2 separate regions of the Homo sapiens genome follow, and region 1 is linked to region 2. Evidence: fine-mapped expression QTL. Tissue or cell type: testis. Region 2 holds a variant in brackets; the other region holds the start of a gene. All regions are shown on one strand. Distances are between the middles of the regions.

The links. PIP is the estimated chance that this variant, and not a neighbour inherited with it, causes the effect.
Region 1: it holds the start of GCNT2, and the variant in region 2 is fine-mapped to the expression of GCNT2 in testis (GTEx, PIP above 0.99).

The regions. Positions count from the first base shown.
Region 1 is chr6:10,518,789-10,523,934 of GRCh38, reverse strand. It overlaps GCNT2 (glucosaminyl (N-acetyl) transferase 2 (I blood group)), which reads right to left and starts at 2,584. Exons shown (of 5, transcript NM_145649.5): 1 at 2,518-2,584. It overlaps LOC101928146 (a long non-coding RNA gene), which reads left to right and starts at 2,529. Exons shown (of 3, transcript XR_001743961.2): 1 at 2,529-2,587. RefSeq lists enhancers at 2,238-2,297, 4,018-4,713, 4,793-4,937, 4,953-5,146 and a cis regulatory region at 4,860-4,870.
Region 2 is chr6:10,490,445-10,495,590 of GRCh38, reverse strand. No RefSeq gene overlaps it. Among named protein-coding and RNA genes, the nearest start is that of LINC02522, 11 kb to the right of the region's middle. The variant A/G (reference allele first, on the strand shown) is at 2,053.

The DNA.
Region 1 (5,146 bases), 28 kb before region 2:
GTGGCGCGATCTCGGCTCACTGCAAGCTCCGCCTCCCGGGTTCAGGCCATTCTCCTGCCTCAGCCTCCCGAGTAGCTGGGACTACAGGCGCCCACCACCAAGCCCGGCTAATTTTTTTGTATTTTTAATAGAGACGGGGTTTCACCGTGTTAGCCAGGATGGTCTCGATCTCCTGACCTCGTGATCCGCCCACCCCGGCCTCCCAAAGTGCTGGGATTACAGGCATGAGCCACAGCGCCCGGCCTTGGTTTTTCAAGTCTAGAGTCAAGACAACAGCAATCTCCAGGCCATGCTGGGAGGATTCTGGAGGTAGGGCACCTAACGTGCTCAGCTCAGGGCTTCTAGAGAAGTCAGAGCTAATTCCAGACCTGGATGGAAAGCTGTGGGGAAGAAGAGGCTACGAGGGGGAAATGAAGTGGGTTGTGATCGTTTAACAAAAAATAGCTGGGAAAAAAAGTAATAGGAAACTATAAGAGAAAGCTGGTCTTTTTTTTTTTTTTTTTCTTTTGAGACGGAGTTTCGCTCTTGTTGCCCCGTCTGCAGTGTAATGACGCCATCCCGGCTCACTGAAGCCTCTGCCTCCCGGGTTTAAGCAATTCTCCTGCCTCAGCCTCCCGAGCAGCTGGGGTTACAGGCATGTGCCACCACACCCGGCTAATTTTTGTATTTTCTTTTTAGTAGAGATGGGGTTTCACCATGCTGGTAGGCTGGTCTCGAACTCCTGATCTCAGGTGATCCGCCTGACTCGGCCTCCCAAAGTGCTGGGATTACAGTCATGAGCCACACCGCGCCTGGCTGAAAGCTGGTCTTTTCAAGCTCAGTCAAATAACTTTGAGGCAATGCAAGACTGAGCAAAGTTAAATAGCAGCTCAGTTACTAGGCGGAGTCGAGGCCTTAAAGGCACTTTCCGCCTGCGTTTGCACATGAAAAGATATCTGACAACTCCAGGCTTTCCAAGCCAGGGTCTCCGGGAGAAGCCAGAGCTGGAGAACCTCATTCGTTTTAAGTCTAATTTTACTGTTGCAGAAAGTTACCCTGGAGTTGAGGATTGAGTGTATTCTATAAATGGGATATTATGAGAAGCTAGAACAGCAGCCCAATCTCCGTGCCCGAGGCTTTGTTTGTTGTTTTCACCTTTCTGGATGGAGTTTTGCTCTTACCCTCCCGACCTCTATCGCTCAGAAAGTCCTTGATAGGATTTTGAAGTTACAGGAACCAAAAATTACTGCCATAGGTAGAATACTTCCACAAGGGAGACCTCAAGCTTCTGATCACTAAGAATAATTACATGAAAGAATATAGCCTCCCTTCTTCCGATAATTGCAATATGCTGTTCAATCAGAACAGAGTGCAAAGAAACAGATCCTTTACGCTGTAGGGTCCCCAGGGCCTGGGATTACAGTCTCCCTATTTCTTCTGGAAAACCACAGCCTACAGGTAACTACCCTCTATTTGGCCAATCTACTACCAGGTGCAGAAAGACTATTTACAAGTGACGACTCTCAAAGGCCTACATTTAAAAATAAGGAAAACAGAAAAGTAGCTTTGAGTTTGGCAAAACCTGAATTTACTTAGTAGACCTGTCTTTAATATCAGAAGATGGGTTTTCATAGAATGGCAATATGGATCTACTACTTTTCTACATGGCCCAGAGCTTCATTTTCAATTTTACCTATTATCAAATGAGGTTCATACCTCACAGGAATGTTCATACCTCACAGCAACTAATTAAATAAAATACATTTCAGGCTGTGGACGGTGGCTCACGCCTGTAATCCCAGCACTTCAGGAGGCTGAGGCAGGTGGATCACATGGAGTCAGGAGTTTGAGACCAGCCTGGCCAACATGATGAAACCCCATCTCTACTAAAGATACAAAAATTAGCCGGGCTTGGTTGTGCATGCCTGTAGTCCCAGCTACTCAGGAGGCTGAGGCAGGACCCAGGAGGTGGGGGTTGCAGTAAGCTGAGATCGCACCACCGTACTCTCGCCTGGGTGACAGAGTGAGACTATGTCTGGAAAAAAAAAAAAAAATTTAAATGCCAGACAGTACCAAGTACCTTATCAAATTCTGGAAACATTTTCCCTTGCCTGAAGGAACTGAGAAACATAAACCATTAAGTCTGAAGTGAACGTTGTTCTTTCCTACAAAGTTAAAAGTTGTAACTGAGATACAGAAGGATACTAATGATTTAGAGACAGATGGAAAACCCTCGTGCCCAGTAGGCCCATCATGTAATGAAACAACATACAAACATGCTATTCTTTGAAAAAAAAAAAACCTTTGAAAACAGAAATCTCATGACCAAATGACTCATTCAACATTTTTTGGTGTACTTACTTTATGCCCGGCACTGTGCTAGGTTCTGGAAATATAAAACATCCACGCAGCCCATTTGAGTACCAGCCTATTGGACCTTAAACTGCTGTCAGCGATTTAACAGAGGTAACACGAGAAGACCAGCTCCCCGCAGTTTCCTCCCTCCACCAGTTTCCCAGCACGCTGACCTCCACCTACCTCTCTCAGTTCCCAGGAGGGTAAGATTGCCCAGAGGCGTCCAGCAGTGAACACAGTAAGCCTGTTTAAGGTAAACGCAGTTTAACCCTAGCGTTTTAAGTGGAATAACAGAGGCTGGAATGTGAAAGTGGGAAGGTCTGTTTGCTTTCAGTCCCACCCCCAAGGCCTGCCCTAAGAGTCTGAGACAGGAGAACACACGTCTACAGAGAGCCTGCCTAGAGTCTGGATTTTTTAAGCTGCTGGATACCAGGTGCTACCTGACACCAGCTCATCCCCTGCCTCTAGAGTCCTGGAGGGCTTTGAGTTGATCACTTTCCACTCCAGGAATGTTATAAGAAACCGCTCAGAAAGGTAACTGCCCTGGGTGTAACTGGGTTTTTCATGAGGACACTCCAAGATAGACCTCAGGATAATTATTTGGGTGTTTTCCTAAGACTACCCTCCATTTTGCCCCCTTAGAGGCTGCTTTTTCAAGAGGGGAAGTTTTGGATTCCCTCACAGACCCCTCGTGTTTAAGGTTCCACTCTTATGTTTAGTTATTGGTAGGAAATCTTATAGTCTCTGCCCCAGGGTAACCTCTAACAGATTTAGATATGTGTTCTGCTCAAATGCTACCCACACTGGGGAAGGGGAATCCTAAGGTGGCAGCAGAATTTAGTAGAAAATGCCCTGGGCATTTTCAGAAGGCAAGTTCTCTCCTCTCTAATGCAAGCTGTATATCTTGAGCAAGTCACTTCCTCTCTCTGAACCTCTGGCTTTTCCTAGGCCAGGCAAACGGGCTCTTTACATACCCTTTCAGGAATGAACTGATTCCTGTCCCAGGAAACAAGCTAGTCATACCGTGCATTTAGCCATATCCCTCTCTTCTGCCAAACACTTTGCAGTCAGAAGCAGCTTATAAAATTCAGTGGGGATAAAGCAGGGTATGGTGGTGTGCACCTGCAGTTTCAGCTACTAGGGAGGCTGAGGCGGGAGGGTTGTTTGAGCCCAGGAATTCTGAGACCAGCCTGGGCAACATAGTGAGACATCAACTTAAAAAAAAAAAAAAAAAAAGAAAAAATCCAACTGAGTTAAAAAAAATTTTTTTCCAGTCATAAAGCCAGGATAAACTGAAGAAATAGCAAATCAACTTTTTTTTTTTTTTTTTTTTTTTGTGACAGAGCCTTGCTCTGTCACCCAGTGCAGTGTCACAATCTCAGCTCACTGCACCCTCTGCCTCCCAGGTTCAAGCAATTCTCCTGCCTCAGCCTCCTGAGTAGCTGGGACTACAGGCATCCACCACTATGCCCGGGTAATTTTTGTATTTTTAGTACAGAAAGGGTTTCACCATGTTGACCAGGATGATCTTGAACTCCTGGACTCAAGTGATCCACCCCTCTTGGCCTCCCAAAGTGCTAGGATTACAGGCGTGAGCCACCACACCCGGCCCAAATCAATGATTATTTTTCTTTTCTTTTTCGTTTTTTTTTTTTTTGAGACCGAGTTTTGCTCTTGTTGCCCAGGCTGGAGGGCAATGGCACGATCTTGGCTAACCGCAGTCTCTGCCTCCTGGGTTCAAGCAATTCTCCTGTCTCAGCCTCCGAGTAGCTGGGATTACAGGCATGCGCCACCATGCCCTGCTAATTTTTTGTATTTTTATTAAAGACGGGGTTTCTCCATGTTGGTCAGGATGGTCTCGAACTCCCGACCTCAGGTGATCCACCCACCTTGGCCTCCCAAAGTGCTGGGATTACAGGTGTGAGCCACTGCACCTGTCGTCTGTTTTCTTTTTCTTTTCTTTTTTTTTTGAGATGGAGCCTTGCTCTGTCACCCAGGCTGGAATGCAGTGGTGCAATCTCGGCTCACTGCTACCTCCGCCTCCTGGGTTGAAGCAATTCTGTCTCAGCCTCCCAAGTAGCTGGATTACAGACGCCTGCCACCACGCCCGACTAATCTTTTGTATTTTTAGTAGAGACGGGGTTTCTCCATGTTGGTCAGGCTGATCTCGAACTCCTGACCTCAAGTAATCTGCCCACCTTGGCCTCCTAAAGTGCTGGGATTACAGATGTGAGCCACCCCGCCTGGCCAAATCAACAATTCTTAAAATGACCTATTTTGAAAAGACTAAAAGAAGCCCAACTGTTTTAACAGCATTTATTTTAGAGTTTTAGGATTATGGTAAATTTTACTTTCTTCTATGTATTTTTTTCCTATTTTCCACATTTTATAAAATGGTCATGAATTATTTTTTTCTAATTGGAAAGGAACAATTTTAATGGTCGTGACTGGTTATCTTCTCCCTCATCTTACGCTGCATTGTGTGTGTTGGGCCCAGATCTACAATTCAACTTCCTCATGAGCGCATGAGTCAGCATTTCTTCATGGCCTGTCATTCTGTACTGTTTGCAAAAGTATGAAAAATAGAGACCAGCCCATGGGAATTTTGCTGGAGAGGTAAATAAAATGCTCCATACAATTCTATACCTTTTACCAACCAAAGAATAAAATCATCAAATATCCAAGTATACATCAGTATTTTACAAACCCAGACTTTAGTGATGAAGGTAGGGAAAAAAGGATGACTGTCCTGGAGATTCAAGACGGGGTCTACTTATTGGGAAAGAGCCAGTTAAGTCAAATCATCGCAGCA
Region 2 (5,146 bases):
GCACTCCAGCCTGGGTGACAAGAGCGAGACTCTGTCTCAAAAAAAAAAAAAAAAAAAAGGGTGAATTTGGCCAGTGTAGGGTCATGAGGGCTGTGTGCTTGGGGGCAGGTTATGGACCAACTGCTGTGTAAGCCTGTTGCATTTACAAAGTAGGCAATAAATCATACAGTTTAAAAAAATCACTTGAGAGAATGCACTAGAGCAGATCATACTTATACACATGCACGCACGCATGCACACGCATGCACACACACACATGCACGCACATATTCCAGAGAGTAACATGAAGTTTTCAGAATCTAAGGATTCCAGGTGTTTCCTGCTTTCACCGCCAGGGAAGCAGAAATGACCGCTGTTAAACAGACATCCCCTGCAAGAAGTCCTCAGCGCTAGTTCGACGCATTTGGTACACAGCAGAGAGAGACCATGAGCCCTGGGTGCTATCACAGAACTATAGCCGTGCATGGCTTTTGCAAAGGCGATTCCAAAACAACCGAGAAAACGGTAGAAGCAAGGCTGTACCAGGCTTTCTGCTGCCGACCACACACTTTCAAAAATCAATGACTGCTGCTGTTAACAGGCACTTATTAAGGGTGGCCCGGACCTTAATGATCACTAAGATCCTCCCAGGAAGAGCGACTATCACTTGAGTAACTACTGAACTTCATCCAAATAAATTTCCCATCCCACTACTAATGTTTTCATGCAAAGAACCAAAGACTTTATATCTTTTTAAAAGTAAAAAAACAAAACCAAACCAAAATCCGACATTGGCGATGCACACACAGGTCTGAGCAGGTTTCCCTTGTTACCCACTGTGGTTCGGAGCCGCAGTACCTTTGTCGCCTTCCTGCCCAGTTACTTTACTGCAAGGGGGACCGTAATCCTTGACGCCACCTTTTTGCGTTCCTTGTGGAAACAGGCGCTGCCCCGACTACATGCTTTTTCCACGTCGGAGTCGGCGCAGCAGCTCCAAAGCCTTCCAGTCCTCACAGACTCAGCAGAGCTGGCAGGGCCAGCGGGCACCACTGAGTCCCGCGGAGCCAGGCCCAGTCTCTTTGCTTTACTGACGCAAATGTCTGCGGAACTTTTTTTTGACTTGACGTCTATGGTAAGATAAATGCTACCACCACTAAAGGTAGCAAAGAAATGGCCTGGTGACCTTTCAAAAACCTTTTGCCAGACTTTTTCAAATCTCTGATTTCGATTCGGGCAGAGAGGGAGAGCCAAGATTCTGGGGTAGGCTGCCCAGACCTAAGAGGTAGGAGACGGTCTCTTAATGTTTAAGAGGGGGACGTGGAAATGACATTTTTCTCAAGGCAAGTTTGCACTTGGGGCACGATCAAACTTGTGCATGCACTTCACTCAACAATGCTTTTTGCACTATAAGGCGACAGTGGTTGATGTTTTGAGAAGGTGAGGCCCTGGGAGTTGGGTGCAGGTATATCTGGTTTTGATTCTTTCCCCTCCCCAGGGTTCTCAGATGCCAGCTGAGGTCTCATCCATCCACACAGCAGTAGGAAACCAAGGTCCTAATGCTCCGGGATCAATGTGAACTTGTGTGTGTGTGAGAGAGAGAGACGGAGTCTCGCTCTGTCTCCCAGGCTGGAGTGCAATGGCATGATCTCAGCTGACTGCAACCTCCGCCTCCCCCCTCCTGGGTTCAAGCAATTCTCCTGCCTCAGCCACCCAAGTAGCTTGGATTATAGGTGTGCATCACCATGCCTGGCTAACTTCTGTATTTTTAGTACAGTTTCACCATGTTGCCCAGGCTGGTCTTGAATTCTTGACCTCAGATTATCTGCCTGCCTCAGTCTCCCAAAGCGCTGGGATTACACGCTTCAGCCACGGCGCCCCGCCGTGAACATTTTAGTAATCCATTGCAGAGTTCCATGAAATCCGTTTAACTGGCTCATTGGAATTGATAAGGATTATCTATTGCATTCAAGACTAAGACTGAACTCACGGTGGCCACTCAGAGCTACCAAAGACCACCCTGGTGCGATGAATCATGTTTTTGACCCCCGTAACCAGTTCGTTTCAAGCACCACT[A/G]GAGAAAACGGGTCCATTTAAACTTCAGGACTTTTTTTCCGCCGTTCCTCATTTTTAGTCGTCATCCACAGATTTTCATTCTTTCCAAAAGCATGTAAACATATTTATATGGAGGTGAAGACACCAGCTCACATGACATGGATGCAGCACTGGTACATAAACTTATTTACCAGGCACAATGGCTCATACCTGTAACCCCAGCACTTTCGGAGGCCAAGGCAGGCAGATCACCTGAGGTCAGATCGAGACCAGCCTGGCCAACGTGGTGAAAATCTTTATTAAAAATAGAAAAATAGGCCAGGCAGAGTGTGTCACTCCTGTAATCCCAGCACTCTGGGAGACTGAGGTGGGCAGATCACAAGGTCAGGAGATCAACAACATCCTGGCCAATGTTGAGAAATCTCATCTCTACTAAAAATACAAAAAAATTAGCCAAGTGTGGTAGTGGGTGCCTACAGTCCCAGCTACTCAGGAGGCCGAGAGAGGCAAGCCACTTGACCCCGGGAGGCAAAGATTGCAGTACACAGAGGACACCACTGCACTCCAGCCTGGGCAACAAAACCAAAAATGATCAGTAAATAATTTGGCTGGGCCTAGTAGCACATACCTGTAATCCATACTTGGGAGGCTGAGACAGCAGAATCGCTTGAACCCGTGACATAAGCCACAGTGTGCCAAGATAGTGCCACTGCACTCCAGCCTGGGCAGCACAAGTGAAACTGTCAAAAGAAAAAAAAAATCCTCTATAGTTTTCACAACTGCGTGTGGAATTAGTGGGTTCTCAGTCTGACTTCAAGCATGAAGCTGTGGACCCTCACAGAATTACAATTGTTAAACATGTGACCCCAGTTTATTTCTTCTGTTCAGATGTGCTCAAAGTTTCTTCTCTCTGGTGGGTTTGCCTCTTTTGTTTCTTCTCTATAGTGGGTTCGTGCTCTTACTGACTTCAGGAATGACATTACAGATCTTCACATTGAGTGGACTGGGAGCATTACACACCTTCCTAATCTCACTAACTTAAAAACTGAAGCTACCTACTTTCCCACTGAGTGCTACAGCTTTTTTTCAGAATCCCGCTGCTTTAACGACCAAAGCTACAGACAGAGATGGTAAACCTCCCAGCTCTTAAGCATAGAACACCTACCGTGATTCATCCCACCCAGTTGATTCTTTATTCACTACTTCTGGCAGAGTAGTAATCTTAGTCTATAACTGAAGCTACAGACTTTTACTATTAGTCCTGCAGATCAAAAAGATAACACAAACCCAAACAACAAGTCTATAGCAACACAAAGAACAGACGTAAACCAGTTATCCTTATTGATTCAGGCAGCCTGCTTTTATTCCCTTATCTGACCCCACCCACATCCTGCTGATTGGTCCATTTTACAGAGAACTGATTGGTCCATTTTACAGAGTGCTGATTGGTCCATTTTACAGAATGCTGATTGGTCCATTTTTGACAGGGTGCTGATTGGTGTGTTTACAAACCTTTAGCTAGACACAGAGTGCTCACTGGTGCGTTTACAATCCTTTAGCTAGACACAAAAGTTCTCCAAGTCCCCACAAGATTAGCGAGACACAGAGTGTTGATTGGTACTTTTACAAACCTTTAGCTAGACACAGAGAATGCTGATTGGTGAGTTTACAATCCTTTAGCTAGACACAAAAGTTCTCCAAGTTCGCACCCCTCCCAGAAACCCAGCCGGTTTCACCTCTTACCGGCAGGCGCTGGGGCACTTTGCAGCACCCAATTCGGGCACTCTGGCAGCCCAGAGGGAGCTTTTTCCCTAGTCAAGCCCAGCAGACGTCAGTTGACAGTGAAGTTCGGCGACTGCCGAGACCGCGCGCCGGCCACGAGCGCCGCGCGCAGCCCCGGCTCCCGCCCGCGGCTCTCCCTCCACACTCCCTGCGAGCAAAGGAGCTGGCTTCAGCCTGGGCCAACCCCAGAGAGCGGTTCCCACAGCGCAGCGGTAGGCTGAAGGGCTCCTCAAGCACGGCCAGAGTAGGCGCCGATAGCGAGGGAGGGCTGCTGGCACATTGTCATTTCTCGGTTCCACGTTACAATTGAGAAAATGGAGGCAGGTGAAGTCAAGTAACTTGCCCTAAATCAGAAAGTGAGAGATCTGTTTTGAATCTAAGTATCCTAATTTCAATGCCCATGCGCTGTTGATTGACCACACTGCCAAGTTCCACCCAGCCACCTTGACCTTCCACAAGAACCTCAGCCCAGGGATGACAGGGCCTGCAAGAAATCCCACCACTAGAGGCTCTGAATTCCATGTTGGCATGGGAGTTACCAGTTACACTAGAGTCAGACTTGTTGAGTTTGTGCCCAACAATAAAGTGTCCGCAAACCTCACTTAACTTCTGGAAGCTCTGATTTCCTTATCCATTGAAGGGAGATGCTGGCTGGGTGCGGTGGCTCACGCCTGTAATCCCAACACTTTGAGAGGCTGAGGCGGGTGGTTCACCTGAGGTCAGGAGTTTGAAACTAGCGTGGCCAACATGGTGAAACCCCGTCTCTACTAAAAATACAAAAATTGGCCGGGTGTGGTGGCACGTGCCTCTGGTCCCAGCTACTCGGGAGGCTGAGGCAGGAGAATCTCTTGAACCCAGGAGGCAGAGGTTTCAGTGAGCCGAGATTGCGCCACTGCACTCCAGCCTAGGTAACAGAGCTACACTCTGTCTCCAAAAAAAAAAAAAAAAGGGTTGGGGGGTGGCGAGATGTTACTAGTATTCCACTTGTAAGATAGTTTTGAATATCAGGTAAGATAAAGCATAGTAAATCCAGGTCTGTCTATTCTATACCGCTCAGCTCTGAGCAACCCCTGCCAGTAGGTAATGAGAAACCAAGGCAATTTTCCCTGGTTTTGTGCTTCCAAATAGTCTTTTTATTTTATGGAATCTTTCAAAAACTTTAGGGAAATATAATTGTCTGATTTCTAAAGCCATTTGTTCATTCATTCATTCATTTCACAAGAACACATTGCAAGCCCAGAGCCCCTCGTTTAAAAAAAAAAAAAGCCTTCAATTTAACACAGATGAACAAATGAAGTCTAAGGCACTGGGTGGTCAGCATCTGAAGGTGGGG